Linked DNA regions of Homo sapiens. The protein of the gene in region 1 interacts with the protein of each later gene in a pairwise test. Each region holds a gene or a part of one and is shown on either strand. Other genes may lie near its edges.

Evidence for each region. The genes of interacting proteins can lie anywhere in the genome.
Region 2: the proteins of BRAP (region 1) and CPLANE1 interact in a two-hybrid assay, tested with the Homo sapiens proteins (one study listed by IntAct).

What each region holds. Positions count from the first base shown.
Region 1 is NC_000012.12:111,641,646-111,647,985, reverse strand, and holds the end of BRAP (BRCA1-associated protein), read left to right. Parts: intron 1-3,423; coding exon 3,424-3,787; 3' UTR 3,788-5,840; downstream 5,841-6,340. UniProt on the Homo sapiens protein: Negatively regulates MAP kinase activation by limiting the formation of Raf/MEK complexes probably by inactivation of the KSR1 scaffold protein.
Region 2 is NC_000005.10:37,106,353-37,113,381, reverse strand, and holds part of CPLANE1 (ciliogenesis and planar polarity effector 1), read left to right. Parts: intron 1-4,910; coding exon 4,911-5,089; intron 5,090-5,603; coding exon 5,604-5,780; 3' UTR 5,781-7,029. UniProt on the Homo sapiens protein: Involved in ciliogenesis. Involved in the establishment of cell polarity required for directional cell migration. Proposed to act in association with the CPLANE (ciliogenesis and planar polarity effectors) complex.

The DNA of each region.
Region 1 (6,340 bases):
GGTGATCCTCCCACCTCAGCCTCCCAAGTAACTGGACTACAGCTGTGCACCACCACCCCTGGCTAATTTTTTTTTCTTTTTTTCTTTTTTTTTTTGAGACGGAGTTTCGCTCTTGTTGCCCAGGCTGCAATGGTGTGATCTCGGCTCACTGCAACATCTGCCTCCGGGGTTCAAGCAATTCTCCTGCCTCAGCCTCCCAAGTAGCTGGAATTACAGGCATGCACCACCATGCGTGGCTAATTTTGTATTTTTAGTAGAAACAGGGTTTCTCCATGTTGGTCAGTCTGGTCTCAAACTCCCGACCTCAGGTGATCCGCCTGCTAAAGTGCTGGTTTTACAGGCGTGAGCCACCGTGCTTGGCCTCTGGCTAATTTTTTGCAGAGACTGTTTTACCATTACAGGCATGGGCCACCACACCCTGCAAAAACTGGAAGTTCTTTTTCACCCTCTAGATCCTGCTATCTAGTGTTAACCATTATTAACCAGTACCAGTGAATATTTCTTCTTCTAGATGTTTAGCTCTGCCCACATAAATATCTCACATGCATAATCTTTTCTCTGCAAAAATAGAATCTAGGTATTCTTTTTGATAAAATATGTTTTTGGATTTTTTTTCATACTAGCACATCTAAATCTATCCTGATCTTTGTAACATCTGCATGCTGTTTAATTGTATGGATGTACTATAATGATTTCTGTTGTGGTGGTTGTTGTTGAAATAAGGTCTTGCTGTGTTGCCTAGGCCAGAGTACAGTGGCGTAATCATAGTTCACTGCAACCTCCAGCTACTGGGCTCAAGTGGTCCTCCTAGTCTGAGCTTCCTGAGTAGCTAGGACTACAGGTGTGTGCTACCATGTCTGCCCAATTGAAAATTTTTTTGTAGAGACGGGGTCTTGCCATATTGCCCAGGCTGGTTTTGAACTCTTAGCCTCAAGTGATCCTCCTCCTTGATCCTGTCTTGGCCTCCAAAAATGCTAGGATTATAGGCATGAGCCCTGCACCTGGCCTGCATAATGATTTTGACCAGGTTCCTATTGATTGTGTCAAGTTGTGTCAAATCTCACACTACTATAAGCAATACTGTAATGAGCATCTTCCTCCATGTCTCTTTTTACCTAATCCTGAGTATATCTATTCTATGGTATAAATTCCTAGAAGTAAAATAGCTGTGTCAAAGGGCATGCAAATTTTTTGTTTTTATTTATTTATTTTTGAGACGGAATCTTGCTCTGTCACACAGGCTGGAGTGCAGTGGCACGATCTCGACTCACTGCAGCCTCCGCCTCTAGGGTTCAAGCAGTTCTCCTGCCTCACCCTCCCGAGTAGCTGGGATTACAGGCACACGCTACCACACCCGGCTAATTTTTGTATTTTTAGTAGAAACGGAGCTTCACCATGTTGGCCAGGCTGATGTTGAACTCCTGATCTCGTGATCCACCCTCCTCGGCCTCCCAAAGTGCTGGGATAACAGGCGTGAGCCACCGTGCCTGGCCCAAATTTTTTGTTTTTATAGATATTGCCAAGTTGTCTTCGAAAGAGTTTATACCAGTTCATGCTCCAGTGCTAGTGTGTAAGTGCCTCTTTTCTCATGTCTCAGCTCTTGGGTGTTCTGATGCATAAAAATAGTATCTCAAATAGTGGGGTTTTTTTGTTCGTGGTTTTTGTGTGTGAGTGTTTTTGGTTTTTGTTGTTGTTTTTTTGAGACAGGGTCTTACTCTGTCAGACAGGCTGGAGTGCAGTGATGCAATCACAGCCCACTGCAGGCTCAAATTCCTGGGCTCAAGCAGTCCTCTGCCTCAGCCTCCCAAGTAGCTGGGTCTACAAGTGCACATCACCACACCCAGCTAGTTTTTTAATTTTTCTTTTGTATAGACGGTGTCTCGCTATGTTGACCGGGCTGATTTCAAAGTGACCCTCTCACTTTTGCCTCCCATAGTGCTGGGATTACAGACATGAGCCACTCTGCTGGGTCTCAGATGGTATGGGTTGTTTGTTTGAGACAAGATCTCGTTCTGTCACTCAGGCTGGAGTGCAGTAGCATGAACACAGCTCACTGCAGCCTTGACCTGCTGGGATCAAGCAATCCTCCAGCTTCAGCCTCCTGTAAATCTGGGACCACAGGTGCACGCCACTGCACCTGGCTAAGTTTTTTGATTTTGTGTAGAGACAGGGTCTTACTTTGTTGCCCAGGCTGGTCTCGAACTCATTTCCTGTTTCATTTACTGAAGCGATCCTCTCGCCTCAGCCTCCCAGAGTGCTGGGATTCCAAGCATGAGCCAATGCACCTGGCCTCAAATGGTGGTTTCATTTGCAATTCTTTACTTATGAGTAAGACTGGACATCAAGAATAGGGCACTCCCAAGTCTAAAGCCCTTTGGTTAGAATAAGTGCCCTTTTTTTCCCCTTCAGCAAATGCAATGAAGTCAGAGTACTTGACTCTCCAAGAATGCCACTTTTCCTCATAACTTCCTTATCACAGCTATCATCTCGAAGGCACCTATTTAACCACTGACTGCAAAACAAAGAAGCAGTAGAATTTTTACCGTCAGTCACAGAATAGTTTCTGCTACTGAAAACTTTCTGATGCTTAAAAAAAAGTGTCTTAAAAGTACATTTGTGGGCTGGACGCGGTGGCTCACACCTGTAATCCCAGCACTTTGGGAGGCCAAGGTGGGTGGATCACAAGGTCAGGAGTTCCAGACCAGCCTGGCCAAGATGGTGAAACCCCGTCGCTACTAAAAATGCAAAAATTAGCTGGGCACAGTGGCAGGCACCTGTAATCCCAGCTACTTAGGAGGCTGAGGCAGGAGAATCGCTTGAACCCAAGCGGCAGAGGTTGCAGTGAGCCAAGATCACGCCACTGCATTCCAGCCTGGGCAACAGAGTGAGACTCCATCTCAAAAAATAAATAAATAAATAATACACTTGTGGACTGGCGCAGTGCCTCATGCCTGTAATCCCAGTACTTTGGAAGGCCGAGACAGGTGGATCACCTGAGGTTGGGAGTTCAAGACCAGCCTGGCCAACATGCCGAACCCCAATATCTACTCAAAATACAAAAATTAGCCAGGCATAGTGGCAGGTGCCTGTAATCCCAGCTACTTGGGAGGCTGAGGCAGGAGAATCGCTTGAACCCAGGAGGTGGAGGTTGCAGTGAGCTGAGATCGTGCCATTGCATTCCAGCCTGGGCAACAAGAGCGAAACTCCGTCTCAAAAAAAAATACACTTGTGTTAAGTAGAGCAAAATTCTTGCTTTGCATAGCTGATTGCGATGGCAGAAAACCATTCTCCCTCACGATGGGAGAAAGGGGTCTGTCCTAAAGGGATTCTGAGGTCATGGTTTCTCTGTTCAATCCCAGAGCAGAAAGGGGACTGTGTCAGCAAATGAAAAATGTGCTTTTGTCTTCCTTTGTTTTTCAAAAGGTGCACTCAGCTAAACACAAAAGTGGCCAAACTCACCAACGAGCTCAAAGAGGAGCAGGAAATGAACAAGTGTTTGCGAGCCAACCAAGTCCTCCTGCAGAACAAGCTAAAAGAGGAGGAGAGGGTGCTGAAGGAGACCTGTGACCAAAAAGATCTGCAGATCACCGAGATCCAGGAGCAGCTGCGTGACGTCATGTTCTACCTGGAGACACAGCAGAAGATCAACCATCTGCCTGCCGAGACCCGGCAGGAAATCCAGGAGGGACAGATCAACATCGCCATGGCCTCGGCCTCGAGCCCTGCCTCTTCGGGGGGCAGTGGGAAGTTGCCCTCCAGGAAGGGCCGCAGCAAGAGGGGCAAGTGACCTTCAGAGCAACAGACATCCCTGAGACTGTTCTCCCTGACACTGTGAGAGTGTGCTGGGACCTTCAGCTAAATGTGAGGGTGGGCCCTAATAAGTACAAGTGAGGATCAAGCCACAGTTGTTTGGCTCTTTCATTTGCTAGTGTGTGATGTAGTGAATGTAAAGGGTGCTGACTGGAGAGCTGATAGAAAGGCGCTGCGTTCGAAAAGGTCTTAAGAGTTCACTAACCTCACATTCTAATGACCATTTTGCCTTCCTGCTTGGTAGAAGCCCCAACTCTGCTGTGCATTTTTCCATTGTATTTATGGAGTTGGCGTATTTGACATTCAGTTCTGGGGTAGGTTTAAGATGTTAAGTTATTTCTTGTAACCTCAAAGGTAAGGTTATCTAGCACTAAAGCACCAAACCTCTCTGAGGGCATAACAGCTGCTTTAAAGAGAGGTTTCCATTGGCTATTAAGGAGTTATGAAAACTCCCTAGCAATAGTGTCATATCATTATCATCTCCCCCTTCCTCTGGGGAGTGGAAGAATTGCTTGAATGTTATCTGAAAAGAGGCCTGGTAGTAAACCAGGCCCTGGCTCTTTACCAGCAGTCATCTCTTCTTGCTCTGGGGCCAGCCAGGAAAAACAAACAACCCGGGGCACATTGGGTAGACTCAGTGTAGGAAAAATGGTGGCAGCTCCACTGTTTATTTTTGGTGACTTCGTACATCATTATGAACCGCAATTAAGGAGGAGGCTTAATGGCTGTTCCCAAACTCAAATCTCAGAGTGGGTATCCTAGCATCTAGCAAGACTGAGTGGGGAGATTTCTCATCCGTGTGAAAATGTAGAGTGAGGCCTCTGACTAGCTAATTGTGTATTTTGTTGGGTTTAGTATTTTCTAAATGTTTACAAAATATTGGGCTGCATGTTCAGGTTGCAGCTAGAGGGAGCTTGGGCAGATTTTCAATTACGCTTTCAAGATATAACCAAAAGCTGTTTCTAAATCCTAAAATTAGAATTTCAACAGAGCCCCCTTTAGAACAGTCATATAACGCTTGTGTGGGCCAACAGAGGGGCTGTGTACTCTCTCTGGAACCATAAATGTCAAATAATTTATAACCTGCAGTAATTGAGCAAACTTAAAATAAGACCTGTGTTGGAATTTAGTTTCTTGAAGAGGTAGAGGGATAGGTTAGTAAGATGTATTGTTAAACAACAGGTTTTAGTTTTTGCTTTATAATTAGCCACAGGTTTTCAAATGATCACATTTCAGAATAGGTTTTTAGCCTGTAATTAGGCCTCATCCCCTTTGACCTAAATGTCTTACATGTTACTTGTTAGCACATCAACTGTATCACTAATCACCATCTGTTTTTGTGGGATGTGCTGCAGCATTTCCCAAAAAACTTTACGTGTAATGTTGCAAAATGAATGTACTCAGACATTCTTAATTTTTACTTAGGGCAGACCAACTCTTTGAGTCTCTCTTGGACTTATATATACAGATATCTTAAGAGTGGGAATGTAAAGCATAACCTAATTCTCTTTCCTATAGAGATTCTATTTTATTTAAAATCTATTTTTACACTAGTTAGAATCCTGCTGTTTTGGCCAAGTACTTGTCTTGCATGTCTGACCTTGCAGAAGCTGGGGTGGATCATAGCATACTAATGAAGAGAATTAGAAGTAGTTTACAAAGCTCGCTCACTCCTCATTTCTCTGTGATCCCTTCTATCCAGTGGCCCCACCACCACCTGGGAAAACAGATTTTTCAGTACAGGTGGGATAAATGCTCTGAAAGGCTGTGCCCAGAGGAATGAGCAAATAGGCAAGTGTTTCCAAACTACTTGGAGGTTTACAAAAAATATGTCCCAGAAAAAAAAAAAATCTTACCAAGATACGTAAAGAAAAAAAAATTTTTTTTTAAACAGTCAAAGAGTCATGTTTGAATTTCACAAAATCACATCAGACAGAAGTTGTTTTCTTCAGGAGGGAAATGAACCACTTAATATACCCATACTACCTTGAACAATGAAATTGAATTAAAATAGCCAAACTTTGAAATTATTCTGCCCCGTGTGAAATGTGTGTCTCTGACTGACATTTGCTTGGGAGCATGTCTCTAATAATCTAAGAAAGTGTCGGCTGGGCACAGTGGCTCAGCGCCTGTAATCCCAGCACTTTGGGAGGCTGAGACGGGCGGATCATGAGGTCAGGAGATCGAGACCATCCTGGCTAACATGGTGAAACTCCGTCCCCACTAAAAATACAAAAAAAAAAATTAGCTGGGCATGGTGGCAGGCACCTGTAGTTCCAGCTACTTGGGAGGCTGAGGCAGGAGAATGGCATGAACCCGGGAGGCAGAGCTTGCAGTGAGCCGAGATTGCACCACTGCACTTCAGCCTGGGTGACAGAGCGAGACTCCATCTCAAAAAAAAAAAAAAAAAAAAAAAGTGGCCTTGATTTAAAAAGCAACGTAAAAATCAGCCCCTTGGTTGGGTGCGGTGGCTCACATCTGTAATCCCACCACTTTGGGAGGCTGAGGTGGGAGGAATGCTTGAGGTCAG
Region 2 (7,029 bases), on another chromosome or scaffold:
AGGCAAAGGAGAAGCAAAGGCAAGTCTTACATGGTGGCAGGCAAAAGAGTGTATTCAGGGGAACTCCCCTTTATAAAACTATCAGATCTCATGAGAACTCACTATCACAAGACCAGCAGCATGAAGGTAACTGCCCCCATGATTCAATTACCTCCCACCTGGTCCCTCCCACAGCACGTGGGAATTATGGGAGCTACAATTCAAGATGAGATTTGGTTGGGGACACAGCCAAACCGTACCAGCTTCTAAATCCCATGCCAGCTTTTCTCTCTTTCAAAGACTTTCCTTTTTACCCATTATGAATTGTTTTCTAGTCTAGAGTACTCAATAGCTTTTTATTCTTTTCAAAGCAAATATCTAGCAATGTCTAGTTCAACAGATAAAATGCTCCCCAAATACAATGTTACCTCTAAAAACAGTTGAAATTACATGTACCGTTATATTGTTTTGTTTTTGAAAGTCCCGGAGATCCAGGGTTTTGTGTTCTTGAAGTCATTATAATCTAACATGAGGCCTTGCCCATAGAAAGCTGTAGGTATTTGTTTCATTGTTCAATGGTAACCCTGCCTCTGAAAGTTAGAAATGTGTATGACTCCAAGTTTCTAGCTTAAGTGCTTAGCTAGACTGTGACTCACAAATTGACACAAGTAGAGCAGGAAAAGAAGCAGGATTTTCTTTGGGAATGATGGAGGTAATAGGTTTAGTTTTATCATCCAGTTTCAGATTTCTCAGGCTAGACTCTGTAGACACTGTTTGGTGTTATGTTATAAAGAAACTGAGTGTCAGTGCCCACCGTCCTAGAGAAAGAGTACTTCCTTTCTGAGGGAAGCCAGTGTACTTGGCAGCCTGGTTTCTGCTGTGGGGTGTCTTCTTGATCTATAACTTACCTTTCACTTCAGAAAGCTTTCACTGTCCAGTGGGGCAGGTACACTTTACCTTGAAAAGTCTTATGCATGCTCAGTTTCACAGAACTTTTCTCATTATATTTTTATCTCAAATTGGATATCCCAGATAAACCCTGGAAAAATGCATTATGATCTGAAAGGAAGGAAATTACAAAGCCATCTCTAGGTAAAGTAAGGTGAGAGAAACCCAGTGATAGCCTCTCAAGGTTTGTAATACCCCATAGGTGAAGATTTATCCTAAAATGCAAGACTCTTAACTGTAATTTTAGCAGAGTAGGTGGTGGTTTGATTTGTCATTCTTTCTAGATGACAATAATTATGTTCATTTGGACAAAACAAGAATGTCGATGTCTAGATGCCAAATTAATTGTAGCCAAGATGAGTTTGGGATTAGTTGATGTTTGTAGCCTTTGTTGATCTCTAGTCATATCGTGAATACTTGAAGGAATAACTTCAGCACCCCACCTCCACTTGTTCCCATCTACTTTGAAGTGGAAGCCTACTCTTGTGGTTATGTTGCTTAACCACTCATTGGTTTCTCTTTCAGTCTCACTTTTTCTGTTTTAACGGCTGTTTTTTTTTTAACACAGTGTTTGTTCACATATGCATTCCTGTCATCTGCTCGTAGATTTTTTCCTTTATATGGTTTTTCAAAATTTGTTCCTTATTAATATTTACTGAAATAATTATTTTAACATGGAACTTTCAGTGGCATTTCAAAATACTCTGTGATGTCTTTAAGTAGCAGAAAAAATGTCAAACCTTTTCAACTAGAGCATAGCTCTCACATTGGATATTACAGTGGCAGGTGCTACCAAATGATGTTAGCTTTGTTTCTTTTTCAGACTCTTGGGGCTAGTCAAAAGAAAAATCCCTAAGCTGTCTGTACCACTGCACCCTTCCCTTTGGCACTAATCCAGGAAGAAGCTTTTGGAAAGCTGCCACTTTGGGGATCCAAATTAATAGATCTATTCATATTTTACTTATAGATATGAAGATGATCTTAAAGGGCCCTCTAAGTATTATTCTTCCTTCACCCTATAGAAAGTTAGGCCGGGCACGGTGGCTCACGCCTGTACAATCCCAGCACTTTGGGAGGCCGAGGCGGGCGGATCATGAGGTCAGGAGATCAAGACCATCCTGGCTAACACCGTGAAACCCCGTCTCTACTAAAAATACAAAAAAAAAATTAGCTAGGCATGGTGGTGGGCGCCTGTAGTCCCAGCTACTCGGGAGGCTGAGGCAGGAGAATGGTGTGAACCCGGGAGGTGGAGCTTGCAGTGAGCCGAGATCATGCCACTGCACTCCAGCCTGAGTGACAGAGCGAGACTCTGTCTCAAAACAAAAAAAGAATAGAAAGTTAATACATTGGCCGGGCGTGGTGGCTCACGCCTGTAATCCCAGCACTTTGGGAGGCTGAGGCAGGCGGATCACGAGGTCAGGAGATTGAGACCATCCTGGCTAACACGGTGAAACCCCATCTCTACTAAAAATACAAAAAATTAGCCGGGTGTGGTGGCGGGTGCCCGTAGTCCCAGCTACTCGGGAGGCTGAGGCAGAAGAATGGCGTGAACCCGGGAGGCAGAGGTTGTAGTGAGCCAAGATAGTGCCACTGCACTCCAGCCTGGGCGACAGAGTGAGACTCCATCTCAAAAAAAAAAAAAAAAAAAAAAGTTAATACATTAGCCCAGGTTCTGGGGTGGATCATCTCCATCATCTTGGGCCAATTACATAACCTCTCTAAGCCTCACTTTCCTCATTTGCAAAATGGGGATAATAATGGTTTCTCCATAGGACTGTCAGGAAGAGTATTCACTCAGCAACTGCCCATTGAGTTCCTACTACATACCAGGCACTGTTACTCATGAACAACACAGAAAGCAGCACATAAATAAGGGAGAATGAGGCTGGCTAGGTGGAACTACTCTAGCAAGGGTGGTTAAAGGTCTCTTTGAGAAGGTGAAACTCTTACTCCAGCTCTTAGTATGAAGCAAATTAAAAATTAAATGAATAAAAATTTAGAAAAAGAGAAGGTGATGTTGGAGTGAAGATCTTGAATGATGAAAAGGAGATTGTTAGGTAAAGATAAGGCAAAACAGTTTCAGGCAGAAGTTCAAAGTTCTGGTAAGATTGTTGTATAAAGATAAGGCAGAACAGAAAGTTCAGAGTCCTGGTACAGAAACAAAGTTGGTATGACAGAAAAGATCAGTGTGGAAAGGTGACGAGAGATATGGTGGGAGAGATGGGCTAGATACTGTAGGCTAAGGCAAGGAGTTTGGATTTTACTTGAGATCCAGTGAGACTCCATTTTAGGGAATTAAGCAGAGAGATAATATAATTTATGTTTTAGAACATGTGGAAAGAAAGAACAGAAGACGGCATACAAGGATAGATTGCTTGGGCTAGGGTTTTAACAATGGAGATGGGAGGAAACTATTTGATTTGGGATGTATTTTGAAGATAGACAAAATTAGGACTTGCTGATGGATTGGATGTGGCATGTATAAGAAAGAAGGATGAGGCTGGGCACAGTGGCTCACTCCTGTAATCCCAGCACTTTGTGAGGCTGAGGCAGGCCGATCGCTTGAGGCCAGGAGTTCCAAACCAGCCTGGCCAATATGGTGAAACCCCATCTCTACTAAAAATACCAAAATTAGCTGGGCATGGTGGCGCATGCCTGTAATCCCAGCTACTTGGGAGGCTGAGGCAGGAGACTCGCTTGAATCCGGGAGGCAGAGGTTGCAGCGAACCGAAATTGCACCACTGCATTCCAGCCTGGGGACAGAGTGAGATTCCGTCTCAAAAAACAAAAAAGATATACTGGATTTTAACCTGAGCATTTCCTGGGATAGGGCAGTTTAGGGGTAAAAATTAACAGTGTGGTTTTGGACATGTTAAAGTTCAGATGTTTATTGCACATCCAAGCAAGGATTTTAAGAAGGGGCAATTAGCTTTATGAGACTGGAGGTACAGGTTTTAGAGAGCTGTCAGCATGTAGGTGATATTTAAAGCCATGGAACTAAATGAAGTTAGCTAGGGAGAGCAGAGGTGTGTTAGAAAATCTAAAGACCAGGCATGAATGTCTGGTAAGTTCAAGGGACTGAATGTAAAAGTGCTTATTAGCCTATACTAAATGCCAAAGTGTGTGCTGTGATTATTTTGGGGGCTTTATTTCTTGGAGATATCTTCAGCTTCAAGTACATAAGGTTGGTAGAGTTACAAAAGACAAAGAGGGCCCAAACTTCAGCATTGTCATACCTCTTCTCCCCTCTTCAGGGAGCCACATGACTGCTTGTTTGGGATCTATATTTACTTCCCATCTTGTCCCATGTCTTGGGTGTTTCTTCATGAAATCACCTCGAAGGGTAGAACATGCTGTGATATTGGCTTTGGAACATTGTGTTAGGTGAGGTAGGCTCCTCTAGGGCTTTGTGCAGAGAAACCTTATTGGTTTGTGGGTTTACTAAGCTGCCTCTGGGCATTAGCTGGAATGAAAATTTCTTTTCAACAAATACTGATATATGCAGTAAGAAGAAAGAGGGTCATAATGTATTGTCACCACACTCACTGTGATGCCTTTGCCTAAAGGCAGATTGTAAGCATTAAGCCTGGGTGAAGATGCCCAAAACATTGCTTCTAAGAAGTTTTCACAAGACTTTCTGTAAAAGACAGGGAAGGCCCAGGTCTCAGAGTTCACCCAACTTTGGTGTCAATACCTCTCCACCGTTCTGTTATATCTGTGGCCTCTCCTCCCTAGATTTTCTTGTCTTAAAGATTAATTACTAATAGTTTTCAAATCCAAAGGCTGGAATTCAGTTTCCATCTCGTACAGTGACAGGACAGGAATTGTTCGAACTCTAAAGTGAACCATTTCCAGACCTTGTGATTCAAATATTATTTAAAATGTGACTACCTTGGCTTTGATGATAAAAGTCACAATTAACAAATGAATGAATGAATGAATGAATCAATCCCAATGTGTGCTTTGTTCTTATCCCTTAAAAGGCTCTAATGCTCCGTGTCATAGTCTGCAGCATACAAAAAAACATGGAAGTGCTGGGCTTGCACCTCAAACCAAGCAGGTGTGTGTAGAGTATGAAAGAGAGGAGACTGTGGTGAGTCCCTGGACGATACCTTCAGAAATCCATAAGATTCTTCATGAGAGTCACAATTCCCTTCTACAAGTAAGCATTGTTCTAGATTTTGTTTGTCTAGTGATTGCTCTATGTTCTTCAGGTTTTTTGTTTGTTTGTTTGTTTGTTTTTTAGTTTGTTTTTTGTGGGATGTGGAAATACTGAAAAGTTGTTAGGTCAGTTTGAAATCGTGATGCAAAGCATCTTCCCTTTTGGCTTAGTACTTCAGCATTTGTCTTTCAGACTTCTCTGTGACTGTATTTTTTAACTAAAAAATGACCAAAATGTAAGAACATAAAATCGTACTACAAGTATCAACATCCGTTCTGCCCTGTCTTCACATCTGGTGCCAGCATCTCGTTGTGTGAGATGATGTTCAGCTCTTGTCCATCTGGATGTGCTGGGCAATCACAGCCCTATTTCCTGGCACATTTCCTTCAGCCTTTTGATGGATGAGCAACTCTAGAATTTTTGGAAAGCTTAGTTCACGTTCCAGGTTTTTTTGTTTTTGTTTTTTTGTTTGTTTTTAGGGGCTAGGACCACAATTGTCTTTTCAATTTAATAGGACTTGTCTCCAACTGAAGAGGAAGAGCCAGAGCATCCTTTTGGGGTGGGCGGTGTGGACAGCGTGTCTGAGAGCACTGGCAGCATCCTCAGCAAGCTGGACTGGAATGCCATCGAAGACATGGTGGCCAGCGTGGAGGACCAGGGCCTGTCTGTCCACTGGGCCCTGGACCTGTAAGACCTGGATATCATTGGGTTTCCATGCACAGGCCAGCACCTCAGTAATGTGGTTCTGAAAGATTAACAGGTTTAAGGGACAGAAGCAATGAAAGAAGCAATGTGAATTTTCCATTTGCTTTCATATTATTACCTGGATTAGCCATTACCAGAGGAAAAATAAACATTTCTCAGTAACTTTGCCTTTATGGGGAAAGGGTTGACTATTGATGTATTATATGTTTTTGTATTTGATGCATCATTAGGCATAATTTTTAAAATGATAAGTACCTTTCAAGCCAAGTTTGCATAACCTACTTTCAATAAAAACCCTCTATCTTGCCTCCTCCTTTATTACCCTCTGAGTTTTGAGAAACAACCATATACAGATGAATCTAATAGGAAAAAAAAAAATCTTTTCATTGAGAAGAAAATCAGTCTCACCTGAGAACTCAATTATGAACCCTATTTTAAAACACCTATGCAGGGTTTAGCCTAGGAGTGAAAAGAAAAACCAACTACCTTTTACCAACCCTGAATCTCTAAATAAGCAAAGTTTCATGGAGGCCAGGAGATCTTCTGTCTTCTGCCCTGTAGCCTGAAGCCTTGGAGGAAGAAACAGGAATGGATGCTTTGGGCAGGAAAGTAAGGGAATATGACTCCGGCCTCTAGAAGGCTCATCTTAAATTTGTAAGAACCATGGTACAGAGACCTGATTAGTTTTTGGTATTGTGCTCCAATAATGTCATAGTTTTAAGAGATAATTTTTATGAGAATTGACTAAGAACCAGTATCCTTCAACTACTTCATCAATGTTTGGTATAATATAAAAGCACACTATCATCTGAAAAAGCTATTAAATACCCCTCTTTTTCCAAATATCTACCTGTGTGAAGCCAGGTTTTACAACATGTATTGCAGCAAGTTGAATGCAGAAGCAGGTATGGTAATTCAGCTGCCTTCTATCAAGCTAAACATTAAAGAGATTTGTAGAACTATAAAACAATGCTACTCTCCTTACCAAATTGTTTTAGAAAATAGCTTTATAGGCTAACATTATTGTTAATTGTCATTTAATTGTTTTGTCATTTAAAATATTTTAAATTGTTTTCTGTTAGTTTCTTTTTTGTATATTCTATGGGTATTTTATTGATACATGATAGTTGTACATTTTTATGGGGTGCATGTGATATTTTGATATGTGCATACAATGTGTAGCAATCAAATCAGGGTAATTGGGATATTCATCACCTCAAACATTTATCATTTAT